Homo sapiens: one gene and its partners. The protein of the gene in region 1 purifies or fractionates together with the protein of each later gene. This does not show direct contact. Each region holds a gene or a part of one and is shown in the gene's direction. Other genes may lie near its edges.

Evidence for each region.
Region 2: the proteins of BDH2 (region 1) and FNBP4 purify together in Homo sapiens (affinity purification with mass spectrometry; one large-scale study listed by BioGRID and IntAct). This does not show direct contact.
Region 3: the proteins of BDH2 (region 1) and TRIP11 purify together in Homo sapiens (affinity purification with mass spectrometry; one large-scale study listed by BioGRID and IntAct). This does not show direct contact.
Region 4: the proteins of BDH2 (region 1) and METTL2B purify together in Homo sapiens (affinity purification with mass spectrometry; one large-scale study listed by BioGRID and IntAct). This does not show direct contact.

Annotation. Positions count from the first base shown.
Region 1 is NC_000004.12:103,096,602-103,101,674, reverse strand, and holds the start of BDH2 (dehydrogenase/reductase SDR family member 6), read left to right. Parts: upstream 1-1,840; 5' UTR 1,841-1,892; intron 1,893-2,872; exon of another isoform or gene 2,873-3,031; intron 3,032-3,920; exon of another isoform or gene 3,921-4,039; intron 4,040-5,073. UniProt on the Homo sapiens protein: NAD(H)-dependent dehydrogenase/reductase with a preference for cyclic substrates. Catalyzes stereoselective conversion of 4-oxo-L-proline to cis-4-hydroxy-L-proline, likely a detoxification mechanism for ketoprolines.
Region 2 is NC_000011.10:47,718,636-47,722,784, reverse strand, and holds part of FNBP4 (formin-binding protein 4), read left to right. Parts: intron 1-2,698; coding exon 2,699-2,856; intron 2,857-4,149.
Region 3 is NC_000014.9:92,005,560-92,009,059, reverse strand, and holds part of TRIP11 (thyroid receptor-interacting protein 11), read left to right. Parts: intron 1-1,207; coding exon 1,208-1,420; intron 1,421-2,611; coding exon 2,612-3,500.
Region 4 is NC_000007.14:128,479,534-128,484,008, forward strand, and holds part of METTL2B (tRNA N(3)-cytidine methyltransferase METTL2B), read left to right. Parts: intron 1-1,113; coding exon 1,114-1,163; intron 1,164-4,475. UniProt on the Homo sapiens protein: S-adenosyl-L-methionine-dependent methyltransferase that mediates N(3)-methylcytidine modification of residue 32 of the tRNA anticodon loop of tRNA(Thr)(UGU) and tRNA(Arg)(CCU).

The DNA of each region.
Region 1 (5,073 bases):
AATTTAGTCTGCTGAGAATACTAATGGGTAAGCAAGTATTTGCAATACCATGTGACTTAGGCTGTTATCAAGTAAGCATTGTTGCTGAAGATTACAGAGGGATGCTGAAGAAAGCTACATCAAGAAGCATTGGAGTTGGCTTTGATTAGAGAACTCTCATAAAGTCTGTTCCAAAAGCCTCAAAAGTCAAAGGGCATTATTAGTAAAGCAGGAACAAAGCTAGATGTGATTACAGATTGTTAGAGCCAGCATTAGAAGTTGCTGAAACAATGAACAAGGAGGGACAATTTTACCATAGACCTCATATAGACACATGCAGAAACTAAGTCCAGTTTTTAAAAGAACATTAAAAAGCGCAACTTTTACCATCCATTATAATTAAATTTCTCCAACAATGTCTTCATCATAAGAATCACTAACATGTATTAAGCACCTGTGTGGCAAACATTGTGCTGATGGATTCACAGGCTTAGTCGTTCCTCCTCACCACATCCCTGAGGTAGGTGCTATTTTACCTTCATTTTACAGATGAGAAACATAAGAGGTTCAGAGATTTAAGTGATTTACTCACTTAGCTAGTGAGAGAGAGATATGGGACTTGCTCTAGTCTTACTGACGCCACAGTCTTTGTTCTTATCCCCTGTGACTGTTAGAAATCACTTAGCTCCATGTAACAAAAAACGTGAAAAACACTAAAGTTTATTGTCCTCACATAAGAAGTCCAGAGGAGTTGTTGCCTTGAGGCTGTCATCAGGGCCGCAGGCTCCTTCTCTTGCTGGTCCCTGTCGTTAATGTGTGCCTCTGGCCTCAGATGAACTCACTAAATGGCTGCTCTGTCCCACGGCATCCTATCTTCATTCCAGGCAAAAAGAAAGGGAGGAGCAAAAGCTAAAAGCCTTTCAGAAGGGCTTACTTTTCTATTTAAGAAGGAGGCCCTCCTCAGAAATTCCCACCTGCATTTCATTGGCAACATCTATGCTGCTTGGCCACCCCTAGCAGCAAACAAGGCTATGAAGTAGAGACTTTTGTTTTCCAGCTTTGACAAGTGAAAAAAGGGGAAAGTGAGTTGGATGGGTGCTGAGGAAACCAATTTATACAGTACATGTACAAGTAGCCTACACAATCACTCTGCTCACTGGCACTACAGATAAAGCACATGTTGCTATCCTAACCTAGAGGGCTCATGAGATCTAGTCCTTTCTTTTTGACCTTATATCTCTGTTCTCTTCAGCCAAACTGGGGTTTTTCGCTGTTAACATGTTCCCTTTTAAGCCTCCACCCTGTCATCCAAGTTTCACGTTCTCCCCAACCCCATTCCCAGTGTAGTAAAAGGCTCCTGGCATTCTGCCACTAAATGTGCATTAGTGTTAGAATATTCTGAGCATGAAAAAATAAAAATCACAACTGTATCTCAAACAAAAAGGATTTTTTTTTTTATTTCTCTCCCTTAAAACAATCCAGGCCAAGTGACAGGAAGGCTCCAGAATTTTCAGTGACCTGGGTTCCCTCTATTTTGTTGCTCTGCTATCTTCCACACGCAGTTTCCAGCTCAGCCAATCTCGTCTACCCTGGCACCGCATATAGTAGGCATAAACAAAACAGAGAAGTGGAGAGACTGAAGTGAAGGAAATGATTTCCGCATCCTAAGTAAGCTCTAAGGTGCTTTTCCACTTTTCACCTTCCACTTGGAATTCATAGTTCTACCTGAATTCCACTAGATGGCAGCACATACATTTATAAAGTGTATGGATGGAGCCACTAAACTCTGAAAGCAGGGAAACTACAAATCCCAGCATGCATTATTAAGCGCTTGACTTGCTTCCAGACAAAGGTTGTCTCAAGTTTGTTGCTCAAACCGAGTTCTGGAGAACGCCATCAGCTCGCTGCTTAAAGTAAGATTTCCTAATACTTTTGAAATGAAACTTTAGAACGGAAAGAGGGGAGGTTTAATTTTTAGATGTTGTTTTTTTCTGCACGTTGCCTGTTTCAAAATTAATCTGAGCAGTTAGATCAGTGTAAAGATGGGTTTTTAAAGAGCCTGAAACTCTGTGGTATGTATGTTTTATAAAGTAGCCCAAGAAAAAAGGATTCTTACGGTATCCTAAGTGAAGAGTTTTCTTCCTGGCTCTTGAAAACAATGGCTTCCTGAATATGCTGTTTGTGTCTCTGCTAATCAAAAATCAACATTTTGATTCTAACTTTTGGACTAAGGAAGCCAACATGTATGGTTTTCACATTGGATATATTGAGAGGTGCCTTGTTTTACCATTTCAGGCCGTGTTTGCTCTCATTTTCTCAAAGAAATCTGTTTTAGTTTGAGATTACAGTTTATCAAATGTTAAGGCTTTGACCCCAAAATCTGGTCCCAGAAAGACAGGAAGGCCAGCTAAGAGGAGGTTTTCAGAGTGCATAGAAAGGCTGCTCTGTGCTTCGGCATTTGTTCTGGAAGTGCTTCTTCGGTTGGCAAAGATTCCTAGCAAAACCTTTGACTGGAGGCTTTACAGGGCCATACACCCAATATCACTAATGACAGTGTTGTAAAATAGCTTTTGTGCACCATGCTTAGGATTCAAGGAGGATAAAGTATATCTTTCTAAAGTTATACTTTAGAAACTGTCATTCCATGTTGAAATGATAAACATTCCATGTTTATCTTTTGTGTAAGAAGTAAAAAAGCAAAAATTCATTGCATCAAAGTAGGTCAGGCACTGTTAAAGCCAAGCTTCCCCATCGCCTAAAAAATGTGGACAAACTCAGAGGAAGTCAGTGATTATAAGCTGATCCCTGGAGCCAGTTCTTACATAATTGTGTTAGTCTGCTCCTCCAAGAAGCAGACTCCAAGATAGAATTAAATATGCATGGATTTTATTAGGGGAAATGCTGTTGTGAGAGAGAATGAGGAGAGAACTAGGTAAGGCTGTGAGAGCCATCAGACCTCGATGCAAGTCCACCCGCGAGGGAGGAAAAGAAGGAAACCAGGTTGAGTGGAAGCATCCCAGACAGCTGTGCAGTCTAAGAGAACTTCAGCAAGGTAATAAGGAGCTTCTCTAGCCAGTCATCCGTTGGGGAGGAGGTCTATGTCTCCCAGAAATGAGTCTGCCTTAGTAAGCATGCATGCTCAGGCACTGGCTTGTAACGGCCCCGAGAAGGTGGCCTCAGCACAAACCCAGAGAGGCAGCAGCAGCTGCGCCTCATTGTCCATTACTTCCTGGGGTCAGCGGTCTGCGAGGCACAGGCTCCTGGTGCCACAGTGGGGATTTAGAGAGGCCCGCAGGGCTTTGAGTACCATGAGACAATGCCATGAGATCTTCCCTTGGACCTGCAACAAGAAGGCCTAGGTTTGAATTCATAGCTGCAAAACACTGGGCAAATAACATTTCTTTGAAATTAGCCACGTTGGTGATCAGGTCCTACCTATCTCATCTCTGAAACACTTCTCCAATCCACCTATCTCTCCATCCCTGCTATTTTCTCCAGCCCTGCTATTTCACCAGCGCCCCCACTAGATAACCCTAGCAGCCTCCTAATGGCACCCCATGCTCCTGCCCAGGTATGTTCTCCACAGCAGTCCTTCCAAAATACGAATCTGATCATTTCACACCCTTTCCATAAATCCTTCAGTGGCTGTTGCCTATAGGAGTAACTTGCCCTTCACCATGTGGACCTTGGACCAAGTGTGGAGGTTTGAAATGGAAGAGCATATTGGGTATAAAAAAAAAAAAGTTTGGCTAAAGAGAGAACTGAAATAAGTTCAAAGAGAAAGGACTAGGTAATATAAGCCCTTTAGGCAAGGCTATCAACCTGTACAAAATCAGGCAGATAATGGAACAGAGTGATTGTGTAGGCTAGTTTGCATGTACTGTAAGTTGGTTCATCAACACCATCCAACTCACTTTCTCCTATTCTTCACTTTATCAAAGCTGGAAACAAAAGTCTCAACTTCCAACCTCTTTGCAGCTAGGAGTGGCCAAGTAGCATAGATCTGGTGAATGAACTGCAGGTGGGAATTTCTGAGAAGGTTTCCTTCTTAAATAGAAAGGTGAGACCTCTCTGAAAGCCTTTTGGCTTTTGCTCCTCCCTTTCTTTTTGCCTGAAATGTGGATATGATGCCTTGGACAAAGCAGCCACTTTGTGAGTTCGTATGAGGTCAGAGGCACACATTAATGACAGAGCCCAGCAAGACTTGGAGCCTGTGTCCTTGAAGACAGCCTCATTTGATGGTCATTTGGCTCTTCTCCACCCCCAGCCTCACTACTAGCTCTTTCTCTCACTTTGTGATCTATAATCCAAGCACTGGTGAAATATCTCATGCACATGAGCCCCGGTGTCAGTGTTTCTCAATCATTTAGAAATTACTGATTATGCCTGTTAATGTGTTACTACTGCATGCTTAAACTTTATAAGAGGATCGGCAGCATTGTGGGCTGGACTGTTCACATAGCAAGAGTCTGGAAGTCTAAGTTTAGTTCTGGCTTTCCCATTGACTGGCTCTATGACATTGGGCATGTTTCAGCAGTTTCCTCATCTGTAAAATGGGAGTATTGGATGTGATTTGATTTTTCCATCCTTTTTTTTTTCGATGAATATCTGAGACCAACTATGAAATCTTTTCAAGAGAAAAAAAATCATAAGCAATTGATAGTGCAAACCTCAACAAAAGTTTATGGAAGAGAAATCAAGAAGCAGCCCTGAGTAGTAAGGACACAAATAATGTCATAGCAATGTGTGCAGGGGTCATGGAGAGAGTGATGGTGGTAGTGAGGAAACTCAGCACCAGAGGCTGTCCTCTCCAGGTACTGAAGGAAGGATAAGGTAGGTTAAAGTGCAATATCTGGGCTGGGCACAGTGGCTCAGGCCTGTAATCTCAGCACTTTGGAAGGCTGAGGCAGGTGGATTGCCTGAGGTCAGGAGTTTGAGACCAGTCTGGCCAACATGGTGAAAGCCCGTCTCTACAAAAAATACAGAAATTGGCTGGGCGTGGTGGCAGGCACCTGTAATCCCAGCTACTCAGGAGGCTGCGGCAGGAGAATTGCTTGAACCTAAAAGGCGGAGGTTGCAGTGAGCCGAGATCAC
Region 2 (4,149 bases), on another chromosome or scaffold:
ACCCTGTCTCTACTAAAAATACAAAAATTAGCTGGGCCTGGTGGCACGCACCTGTAATCCCTGCTACTTGGGAGGCTGAGGCAGGAGAATCGCTTGAACCCAGGAGGCAGAGGTTGCAGTGAGCCAGGATCACAGCACTGCACTCCAGCCTGGGTGACAGAGCAAGACTCCATCTCAAAAAAAGAAAAAAGAAATTGAAATGTCCAGCTTACTTTCTCAGTGGGGGGACCTTATTTAAGAAATCTGTTTGTCTCAAGTGCTGGGAGGAGAATCAGCTTGGGCCCCCATACCTAGTCCTCACATGAGTACAGCACTCAGTCATGTCAACTCCTACTTGTTGAGCCAGCATCACCCAGACGGGTCTTCAAACATACAACTGCTTCTCTTAAAAAGCATAGGGATAAGCTATTAAAGAGGCTGAGGCGGGAGAGTCGCTTGAACCTGGGAGGCTGAGGTTGCAGTGAGCTGAGATCGCACCACTGCATTCCAGCCTGGGTGACAAAAGTGAAACTTTGTCTTAAAAAAAAAAAAGAAAAACGGGGATAAAAATTGGTCTTATCAATATCTAATATATTTGTCAGATACTCTCCCTAGGGGCTTAGGATTTAGCAGTACATCAAACAGACAAAAAAAAAAAAAACCCTCTGCTTTTGTAGAACCTTTCTTCTGGCAGGGGGTGGCTTGGGAGTAGATAAGGGAAAAATAAATCTATGAGAAATATTTTTTTTTCCTTTTTTTTTTTTTTTTTTTTTTTTTTTTTTTTTTTTTTTTTTTTTTGAGTCAGAGACATCCGCCACCACCCCCAGCTAATATGGCAGTTTGCTTTGTTGGTCTTTCCAGCTTTATTTTTTAGCTTTTTTTTTTTTTTTAATCATTTGATAGGAATGCTGCATCTATTTAAAATTTGAAAATGGGAACGCTGTAATTCTGAGGAGACGAGATAAAGGCAATATTTTGAATTGCATAGGGTAGGGAGGTTAAAGGAAATTTATATGACCTGATTTTATAAAATACCACATTTACAAATACCACCTTTTGAAACGGAGTCTCAAGAAAAGGGGCAAAAAATCTGTATGTTTATTATAGACGATTTAGACAATGAAGGTAAGCGAAAAGAAAAAATATTATATCATTATACCTTCTCTTAGAACTAACTGTATCATTGATTTTTTTTGGCAGGGGGAGGGGAGACAGAGTCTCTGTCACCCAGGCTGGTGTGCAGTGGCATGCTCTCAGCTCACTGCAACCTCTGCCTCCCAGTTCAAGCACTTCTCATGCCTCAGTCTCCTGAGTAGCTGGGGCGACAGGCATGTGCACCACCATGCCAGGCTAATTTTTGTATTTTTTATATTTTTAGTAGAGGTGGGTTTTTGTCATGTTGGCCAGGCTGGTCTCAAACTCCTGGCCTCAAGTGATCCACCCACCTTGGCCTCCCAAAGTGCTGAGATTACAGGTGTGACCCACCATGCCTCGCCCCATTGATGTTTTATTTTATTTATTTATTTATTTTTATTTATTTATTTATTTATTTTTGAGATGGAGTCTTGCTCTGTCGCCCAGGCTGAAGTGCAGAGTAGCTGGGACTACAGGCGCCCACCACCACGCCAGGCTTATGTTTTGTATTTTTAGTAGAGACGGGGTTTCACCGTGTTAGCTAGGATGGTCTCGATCACCTGACCTCGTGATCCTCCCGCCTCGGCCTCCCAAAGTGATTACAGGCATGAGCCATCGTGCCCAGCCGATATTTTTAAAAATCTGTTTGCTTTTTTTCATATTTAATTATGGCTATTTATTTATTTGAGACAGAGTCTCACTGTGTTGCCCAGGCTGCAGTGCAATGGTGCAATCTTGGCTCACTGCAAACTCTGACTCCCGGGTTGAAGCGATTCTCCTGCCTCAGCCTCCCAAGCAGCTGGGACTACAGTCGCCCACCGCCGCCGCCACCGCCCCCGGCTAATATGGCAGTTTGCTTTGTTGCTCTTTCCAGCTTTATTTTTTAGCTTTTTTTTTTTTTTTTTAAATCACTTGGGAGGAACACTGCATCTATTTAAAATTTGAAAACGGGAACACTGTAATTCTGAGACGCGATAAAGGCAATATTTTGAATTACATAGGATAGGGAGGTTAAAGGAAGTTTATATGACATAATTTTATAAAATACCGCATTTACAAAGCTTTATAGATTTTATTTATTTATTTATTTATTTATTTATTTTTTTGAGACGGAGTCTCCCTCTGTAGCCCAGGCTGGAGTGCAGTGGTGATCTCGGCTCACTGCAAGATCCGCCTCCCAGGTTCATGCCATTCTCCTATCTCAACCTTCCGAGTAGCTGAGACTACAGGCGCCCGCCACCACGTCTGGCTAATTTTTTGTATTTTTAGTAGAGACAGGGTTTCACCATGTTAGCCAGGATGGTCTCGATCTCCTGACCTTGTGATCCGCCCGCCTCAGCCTCCCAAAGTGCTGGGATTACAGGCTTGAGCCACCGCGCCTGGCCTGCTTTATAGATTTTTAACCAAGCCTTTTTGTTTATAATTGGTAAGAAATTTATGGCAAGAACTTAGAATGGTATTTACTTTCTTTTTTAAAGTGTGCATATTCTTTAGAACTGGGAAAAGGATCCTGACCTCCATTGTAGAGGACGCTTATCCTTATTTTATGTTTTCTATTCCTTTTGACCTTTAACCTTTGTTACAGGCAAAGAAGAGTAAGACCAAAATGCCATCTTTGGTAAAAAAGTGGCAGAGTATCCAGCGTGAGTTAGATGAAGAGGACAATTCTAGTTCCAGTGAAGAGGATCGGGAATCAACTGCACAGAAGCGAATTGAAGAGTGGAAACAGCAGCAGCTGGTTAGGTAAAAGAAAAGGAAACACAGATGAGATGGGGTTTTGGAGTAGGTTGAGACCTACTATGAGATGGAGTAGGTTGTGGTTGTTATAGATGCATTAGAATAGACATATTCTTAAAATCACAGCTTGTAAATTTATCTAAAGGTTTCTAATTTATAAACATGTTTAATTCCTTATAGAAATTATGGGCTAGCCTTTTTTCAAAATCAGAAACAACAGAGTTGTAATACTTTGTCCAGTTGATTGTTGGTCTTAGGCAAAGGCCTGTCTTAACTCTCAGTACATCATTTACTATCTAGATCCAGTGGACCCTTTTATACACACACACACACACACACACACACACACACACACACATACACACATAACATATTAACTTATTTTACAAATAATTTATAGAATTAGACCCTTTTATACACACACACATTATTGTACAAATGATTTACAGAATTAGAATAAAGTTTTTCCCCTGTCCCTATATTTCAGTCAAGCAGGGTAGAATACAGAGCTGCCTTCTCAATTGCACTTATTCTAGAACAGAAGTTAATGAGAGAGCACACCACACTAGGAACTAAATGAACCTCTTCTAGGTAAGAAAATCCTTCACTACCTTGCTTGACTAGAATAAAAGGATAGGGAGAACTGGCTTCAAGTAATTGCACCTCAGCCTCCCAGAGTGTTGGGAATACAAGTGTGAGCCACCACACTCAGGTCAGAAATATTTTTTATGATGAAAGCACATGTTGGGCTGGGCACGGTGGCTCACGCCTGTAATCCCAGCACTTTGGGAGGCCAAGGCGGGTGGATCACGAGGTCAGGAATTCGAGACCAGCCTGGCCAACATGGTGAAACCCCATCTCTACTAAAAATACAAAATTAGCTGGGCCTGGTGGCGAATGCCTGTAATCGCTGAGGCAGAAGAATTGTTTGAACCCGCGAGGCGGAGGTTGCAGTGAGCCAAGACCGTGCTATTGCACTCCAGCCTGGACGACAGAGCAAGACTCCATCTCAAAAAAAAAAAAAAAAAACATGTTGGGTGGGCACTGTGGCTCACACCTGTAGTCCTAGATGCTTGGGAGGCTGAGGCAAGAAGATGGCTTTCTCAAAAATTCTAGAAATTTTAAAGACTTTAGACACAGCAAGTACAATTTTTTATTTCATATTTTCCTTGTTTTGAAGGTATACATTCTGAAATGGGCAGCATTCTTTGACTGCAACTCACTGTTCATCAATTGTCAGTGTATAACCTAGAATATAGCTGTCTATTACTGATGCCAGATTTCAAATTAATCTCTGAT
Region 3 (3,500 bases), on another chromosome or scaffold:
AATAAATTTTTGAATTAGAAGGAAATAAGAATTGTGATACAGATACTCTAGTATAGCTTTTATCGGATCTCTGTTTTTTCAACCAACTCTCCATAGCAATGTTGAGTTTCTTTTATAAGGTTTATATTAGGCTGTTTCTTTGAAGGAATTTGAGATTCTTATTTTTTTAATTTTATTTTTTAGAGAGAGAGAGTCTTGCTGTATTGCCCAGGTTAGAGTGCTGTGGCTGATCATGGCATGATCATAGTGCACTACAGCCTTGAACTCCTTGGCTCAAGTAATCCTTCTGCCTCAGCCACCTAAGTAGCCTCCTGGGACTATAGATAAATGCCATCATGCCTGGTTCAATACTCTATTTAAAGTAGATTCCATATGGGTTTGATTTTTAAAAATCTGTCAATGAAAGAAGGCTTTAATATATAGTTTATTACAAACATCATAACTAGAGACTGAAATAATGTTGAAGCATAGAGAACTGTCCCACTTCTGAGATTTTGGAGAAAGCATTAAATACCAGGTAGTAGACTATAAAATGTATATATACTATCTTTAGGAATGTCAGGTGTGACAGAGGGGAACCTAGTCTGGTTAAAAGGTAAAGGAAGGAAGGAGGATTCTTTCTAGGGTCAAGAAAAAGTTCCATGTTCTAACAGAAGCAAAAGTAATAAGGGAAATTCCTTTAGTAAGAGAAAAGAAACCTTTTATTTTCTAATTAGAGAGGCTAAACATTTGGGTGAAGGAGTGTTGATTTTTTATATTTTTATTTAGTCTGAGGCTGTTGATGACTGGATGTTAGAGAATGGAAGTGAGGAAGGCAGAAAGACTTGCGGACATTTTGGAAAGTATGTATGTATGGTAGGTGGGGCCAGGGGATGGATAAAGGGTAGCCACGGTGGAGCAGGATAGGAGAGGCTCTCAAATGGGAACGTTTTTTATAAAGAAGAACTTGGTGCTAGAGGACAAACTTACAGTCGCTGCATCTGTCTAGGGTTATAGAAATGTTTTGCTTGAAGCTACAAGTAAAATTGCACATGAATGAAGGATGTGGTTTGTTGAATTTCACATACAATTATTGAGGTATTGTTCAATATTATTTCCAATATAGAGCACTTAAATAGAATCCCAAGTTTTGCTTCTATGTATGTTTTTAATCTTTTGGTGTCTCCAATTGAAAGTATGTGTTGCTTTTTTCCTTTTATCATTTCAGGAAGAACTTCAGATGTCACTTTTAAAATTGAACAATGAATATGAAGTAATTAAAAGTACAGCTACAAGAGACATAAGTTTGGATTCAGAATTACATGACTTAAGACTTAATTTGGAGGCAAAGGAACAAGAACTCAATCAGAGTATTAGTGAAAAGGAAACACTGATAGCTGAGATAGAAGAATTGGACAGACAGAATCAAGAAGCTACAAAGGTAACACTGTATTAAATACAGTAAGGCAGCACATTCTACTAAGTAAACTAAACACAGAAATGGTGGGTGTGATTTAATTAATATTTTAGTTCATAGAGATTGACAAACCTTTTTGGTAAAGTGCTAGATAGTAAATATCATTGGCCTTGTAGGCCATATTGTCTCAGTCTACTCAACTCTGTTGTTGTGATACCAACAAATGAGTGTGACCATGTTTCAACAAAATTTTATTTACAAAACAGGCAGCATCCCTGAGTTGGCCAATGGCTATAGTTCGTTGACTCTTACTCTAGTGTAGAGTTAAAAATAAACAACATGCCGGGCGCAGTGGCTCATGCCTGTCATCCTAGCACTTTGGGAGGCAGAGACGGGTGGATCACGAGGTCAGGAGTTCAAGACCAGCCTGGTCAAGATGGTGAAACCCCGTCTCTACTAAAAATACAAAAAATTAGCCGGCCGTGGTGGCAGGTGCCTGTAATCCCAGCTACTCGGGAGGCTGAGGCAGAGAATTGCTTGAACCCAGGAGGCAGAGGTTACAGTGAGCCGAGATCATGCCACTGCACTCCAGCCTGGGCAACAGAGCGACTCTGTCTCAAAAAAAAAAAAAATACTATTTACCATCTTTGGTTTTAAATTCTTATCCCTAAAATGCTTTAAGAAATGACAAGATGGGGCCAGGCACAGTGGCTCATGCCTGTAATCCCAACACTTTGGGAGGCTGAGGCAGGCAGATCACCCGAGGTTGGAAGTTTGAGACCAGCCTGACCAACATGGAGAAACCCCATCTCTACTAAAAATACAAAATTAGCCGGGTGTGGTGGCGCATGCCTGTAATCCCAGCTACTCGGGAGGTTGAGGCAGGAGAATTGCTTGAACCTGGGAGGTTCAAGAGGTGGAGGCGGAGGTTGCGGTGAGCCGAGATTGCGCCGAGCCGAGATTGTGCCATTGCACTCCAGCCTGGGCAACAAGAGCGAAACTCCGTCTCAAAAAACAAAAAAGACAAGATGGGTTTGCTGTAAAATAATAATAAGTAATTTTGTAGTGGGTGTTTTTGATAGAAAAACAATGTTTTTAAGAAGGATTAGAAATATTTGAGGATTATTTTCTATTATGTATGAGATTTTATAAAATTTTCTTTGAGTACTAAAATGAGAACATGTTGTAAAGTCACCATGCAAATTTTTCTTTCAGCACATGATTTTGATAAAAGATCAGCTATCAAAACAACAAAATGAAGGAGATAGCATCATCAGTAAACTGAAACAAGATCTAAATGATGAAAAAAAGAGAGTTCATCAACTTGAAGATGATAAAATGGACATTACTAAAGAGTTAGATGTACAGAAAGAAAAGCTAATTCAAAGTGAAGTGGCCCTAAATGATTTACATTTAACCAAGCAGAAACTTGAGGACAAAGTAGAAAATTTAGTAGATCAGCTAAATAAATCACAAGAAAGTAATGTAAGCATCCAGAAGGAGAATTTAGAACTTAAGGAGCATATTAGACAAAATGAGGAGGAGCTTTCTAGAATAAGGAATGAGTTAATGCAGTCTCTAAATCAAGACTCTAATAGTAATTTTAAGGATACCTTACTTAAAGAAAGAGAAGCTGAAGTTAGAAACTTAAAGCAAAATCTTTCAGAATTAGAACAGCTCAATGAAAATTTAAAGAAAGTTGCTTTTGATGTCAAAATGGAAAATGAAAAGTTAGTTTTAGCATGTGAAGATGTGAGGCATCAGTTAGAAGAATGTCTTGCTGGTAACAATCAGCTTTCTCTGGAAAAAAACACTATTGTGGAGACTCTAAAAATGGAAAAAGGAGAGATAGAGGCAGAATTGTGTTGGGCTAAAAAGAGGCTGTTGGAAGAAGCAAACAAGTATGAGAAAACCATTGAAGAACTGTCAAATGCACGTAATTTGAATACCTCTGCCTTACAGCTGGAACATGAGCATTTAATTAAACTCAATCAAAAGAAAGACATGGAAATAGCAGAACTCAAAAAGAATATTGAACAAATGGATACTGACCATAAAGAAACTAAGGACGTTTTGTCATCTAGTTTAGAAGAGCAGAAGCAGT
Region 4 (4,475 bases), on another chromosome or scaffold:
TAGTGGGATATGTGAAGCTATTATATTTGTGCACATGAGGTAGCATAGAGAGGCTGACAATAAAAGTAACTTCTATTGGATGATGCTGACTAGACTTGACCCTTATATTAGCCTGGAATCACCTCCATTTTTGAACTGATAAAATGCCCTCAGTGCAGACCAGATATCTGGTGGTCATCACAGACAAAGATCACACGGGAATAGCATGTCACTTCCAAAAATTGTATTAATAGCATCATGCTGTACCTGTCACATGACACTGTATCATACAGGTGAAAGAGCTCAACATGATCATGCTATAACTCTGGAAAAATGTCCCAGATCAGAAGAAATTGTTGCTTCTCTTCTAATACAGTTACAGGAATGGAGAGGGTAGTTAGGATGGTGCCTGTTTCTTAGGCCTGGGATAATTCTCTTCCTCTGCATTTGGATGGTGTTGCAGAGTCTAGACCTGGAAAAATGTCTAGATTGGTATAATGTAAATTCATAAATGGGGACTGCGCACGTTACTGGAAGCTGGTTCTGGAACTGGTTAGCCTTGGGATTGAGTCCTATGGTGTGATCTTAGACAATTTCCTTACCCTCTCTGAGCAGTGAGACTGCTGCCTCTGCACCTTATACTTATGAGGATGGAGATAATGTATGTAAAAGGGCTAAGAACAGTATCTGGCACATTGTTAAGCCCTTAATAAATAGTTGCTGTCTTCATTACCACGCAGCACTGTGTTTAGGACAAGGTTGTCAAGGTCCCCTTTTCATACATTTTTCAGCACAGTCTATTACAAATATTTTCACAATAATAATATAAGCTTAGTAAGAAAATACTTCATCTACAGGACAATTTGCTAGAACTCAAAAGATAAAAGCAATCCTTGCCCTTTTTTCTAGACCACCTCGTTTCTGCTAATAAAAACCCATGTTCTTGTCTTTTAAGGGTTCCTGAAGTCAACATCAAAATCAACAAATGTCATGGGTACTGTTTAGCTCTGGTCACTACACCTTCCCTAATACAGTTAGGCCAGATTCTTGTTGATTATTATTTTTCTAGCTTTTCTAGCTTTCGGGAATTAACTCTGGAAAGTTCTGTGATTAATAGTTCATTTCTGTCTGCAGGTTGGCTGTGGTGTGGGAAACACAGTCTTTCCAATTTTACAAACGAACAAGTAAGTATGTTGTAAAAGTTTATGATAGCAAAGAAGATAAAAGTGAAGGTTGGCTGGGCGCATTGCTTCACGACAGTAATCCCAGCACTTTGGGAGGCCAAAGCAGGATTGCTTGAGGCCAGGAGTGTGAGACCAGCCAGGGCAATGTAGCAAGAAAAAAAAGTAAAGATTTTTTCAAAACTTGCTGCATCAAACTATCAATAATGGTTATTGGAAAATATGGATTATGTCAGATTCAGATTTCTACATTGTTCATTTATGGATTGTTTTAATTTGATTATCTTTATCATTTGGAAAATTAGACTTAAAACTTGCTAGTGTTAACGTTTAGTGCCTTCTTCTTCTTCTAAGGAACAAATGTGTTCAACTTTTCCATTCTCATGATCTCTGAAGAACAGTCAGTGGCTGAGTTGTCATTACCCCCATGGTAGAGTTGAGAAAGCTATCATACATGAAGATGTCTCCTGTTCTGATGAAAACACACTGGTTTTGTGTACTTAAGCAGAACGCTTCTGACACCAAATGTGCAGGGTTTTTGCCAACACTGACCAATTCAACAACAGCTGGGTGTCCTACAATTCAATTCTGACACTGTCTACTTGGAGTTGGTATCAGATCCCACAAGTTAAGGGTTCGGTCCCAGAAGACTGCCCCCCACTTCAGATGCCAGTTGTGAATCTGGCCCTCCGTGTTTCTGCCCTACAGGCTGTAAATCAGGGGAGCCCTGTCTCCAGTTCAATAATTTCCTAGAATGGCTCACAGAACTCAGGGAAACACTTTACTTACATTTATGTGTTTGTTATGAAGGATACAGATTAACAGCCAGCTGAAGAAGTAATTAGAGTGGGGTTCAGAGGATCTCACGCTCAGGAGCTTTGACCCTGAGGAGCTCAGTGCAGTGTTCTCCTAGCACACGGATGTGTTCACCAACCTGGAAGCTCATCAAGGGTTTTTTTTTAGTTTTGAGACAAGCTCTTGTTCTGTCATCCCGACTAGAGCACAGTGGTGTGCCCATAGCACACTGCAGGCTCAAACTCCTAGGCTCAAGCAATCGTCTCACCTCAGCCTCCCAAGTAGCTGGGACTACAGACACATGCCACCATACCCAGCTAATTTTTGTTTATTTTTTGTAGAGACAGGGTCTCACTTTGTTTCCCAGACTGGTCTCAAACTCCTGGCTCAAGTGATCCTCTTGCCTCGGCCTCCCAAAGTGCTGGAATTACATGCATAAGTCACCGTTCCCAGCCTCAAGAGTTTTTATACAGCTAGGACACAGACTTATGGGAAAATTAATTTTAAAAGGAGAAGAAGAAAATAGTTTTCATACAACATAATCTGCATTTCTATTCAGGACATTGGTGGGTGAAGCTGAAAGTTCCAATCAGTTTGCCCTTACTAGTGTTGGCCCCACCCCAGGTCATCTCATTAACATAAATTCAGTGTGGTCCTGAGGGAGTTCATCATGAATAACAAAAGATACAGAGTCTTGCTTCATCTCCCAGGTTGGAGTACAGTGGCACAATCTCGACTCATTGCAACCTCCGCCTTCCGGGTTCAAGTGATTCACCTGCCTCAGCCTCCCTAGTAGCTGGGATTAAGGGTGCATGCCACCACACACAACTAATTTTTATATTTTTAGTAGAGACAGGGTTTCACCACATTGGCCAGGCTGGTCTCAGACTCCTGACCTCAGGTGATCTACCTGCCTCGGCCTCCCAAAGTGCTGGGATTATATGTGTGAGCCGCCGCGCCCAGCCTGCTGAGGAAATTCTTAAGGTTTTTGGAACTCTGTGCCTGGAACCACAAAGACCAACACCAAATATATTTATTATACCATACCTGTTTTGTTTTGTTTGAGACGGAGTCTTGCTCTGTTGCCCAGGCTGGAGTGCAGTGGCGTAATCTTGGCTCACTGCAACCTCTGCCTCCTGGGTTCAAGCGATTCTCCTGCCTCAGCCTCCCAAATACCCGGGATTACAGGCATGCGCCACAATGCCCAGCTAATTTTTGTATTTTTAGTAGAGATGGGGTTTCGCCGTGTCGGCTAGGCTGGTCTCGAACTCCTGACCTCAAGTGATCCACCCACCTCAGCCTCCCAAAGTGCTGGGATTACAGGCGTGAGCCATGGCTCCTGGCCCTATAGCTGTTTTTAAACCCCTTGTGGAAATGACATTCCAGTTCTGTATTCATTACTGGAATCCACTGTTTCTCAAAGGTTTCATATAATATATACTTTGCCAATTTAGCCCACAGTATTCATTAACAGGATTAAGTAAAACATTAGCCTCATTACTAATATACATTTAAATATTTCTACAATTTGTTCTCAGAAATTTCTAAGAAAATGGCAAGTCCTAGTACTAACACTGAAGAAAAGAGATTGTTCTACTCTTGAAGTTACAGTCTGAGGAACCCACCTCAAATGGGAGATTGACTTAGCTTCAAGTTATGGCCATTAATCATCAATATCATCAATGAATGTAAAACTGAATGTAGATGGCATCTTTGCCACAGCCTCTTTATGCCATTTAAATAAGATCGCTGTGTTCAGTATCTTACTAGAACCCACTTGTTCATGTAATTCACTGGCTTAGAATTGGCATGTTTTCTACTGCCTGTGAATCAGGTTTAAATTGTTGGGCATAGTTTTCAAAGTCCTCTACAAGAGTGTGCCCTATAAAGTATGTCCTCTTATCCCTCAGTGCACTGGTCACACCTTGCATGTCTTCCCCTGACTCCGTACCTTTCCAAAATGTCCTTTGTTTCTACTACTCTATTTCCTTCCTTCCTCACATTCAGATCAGAAGCATCTAGAAAACTTCCCTAGTTGTTATCGTCCAGCTGCCTCACTCTGCAGTCTTTTTCGAGACAGTCTCACTCTGTCACCCAGGCTGGAGTGCAGTGATTCGATCTCGGCTAGCCGCAACCTCCGCCTCCCAGGTTCAAGCAATTATCCTGCCTCAGCCTCCCGAGTAGTTGGGATTACAGGTGCCCACCACCACGCCCAGCTAATTTTTGTATTATTGATTGATTGATTGGTTGATTGAGACGGAGTTTTGCTCTTGTTGCCCAGGCTGGAGTGCAGTGGTGCGATCTTGGCTCACCGCAACCTCTGCCTCCTGGGATCAAGTGATTCTCCTGCCTCAGCCTCCCAAGTAGCTGGGATTACAGGCATGCGCCACCATACCCAGCTAATTTTATGTTTTTAGTAGAGACGGGGTTTCTCCATGTTGGTCAGGCTGGTCTCGAACTCCTGACTTCAGGTGATCCACCCGCCTCAGCCTCCCAAAGTGCTGGGATTACAGGTGTGTG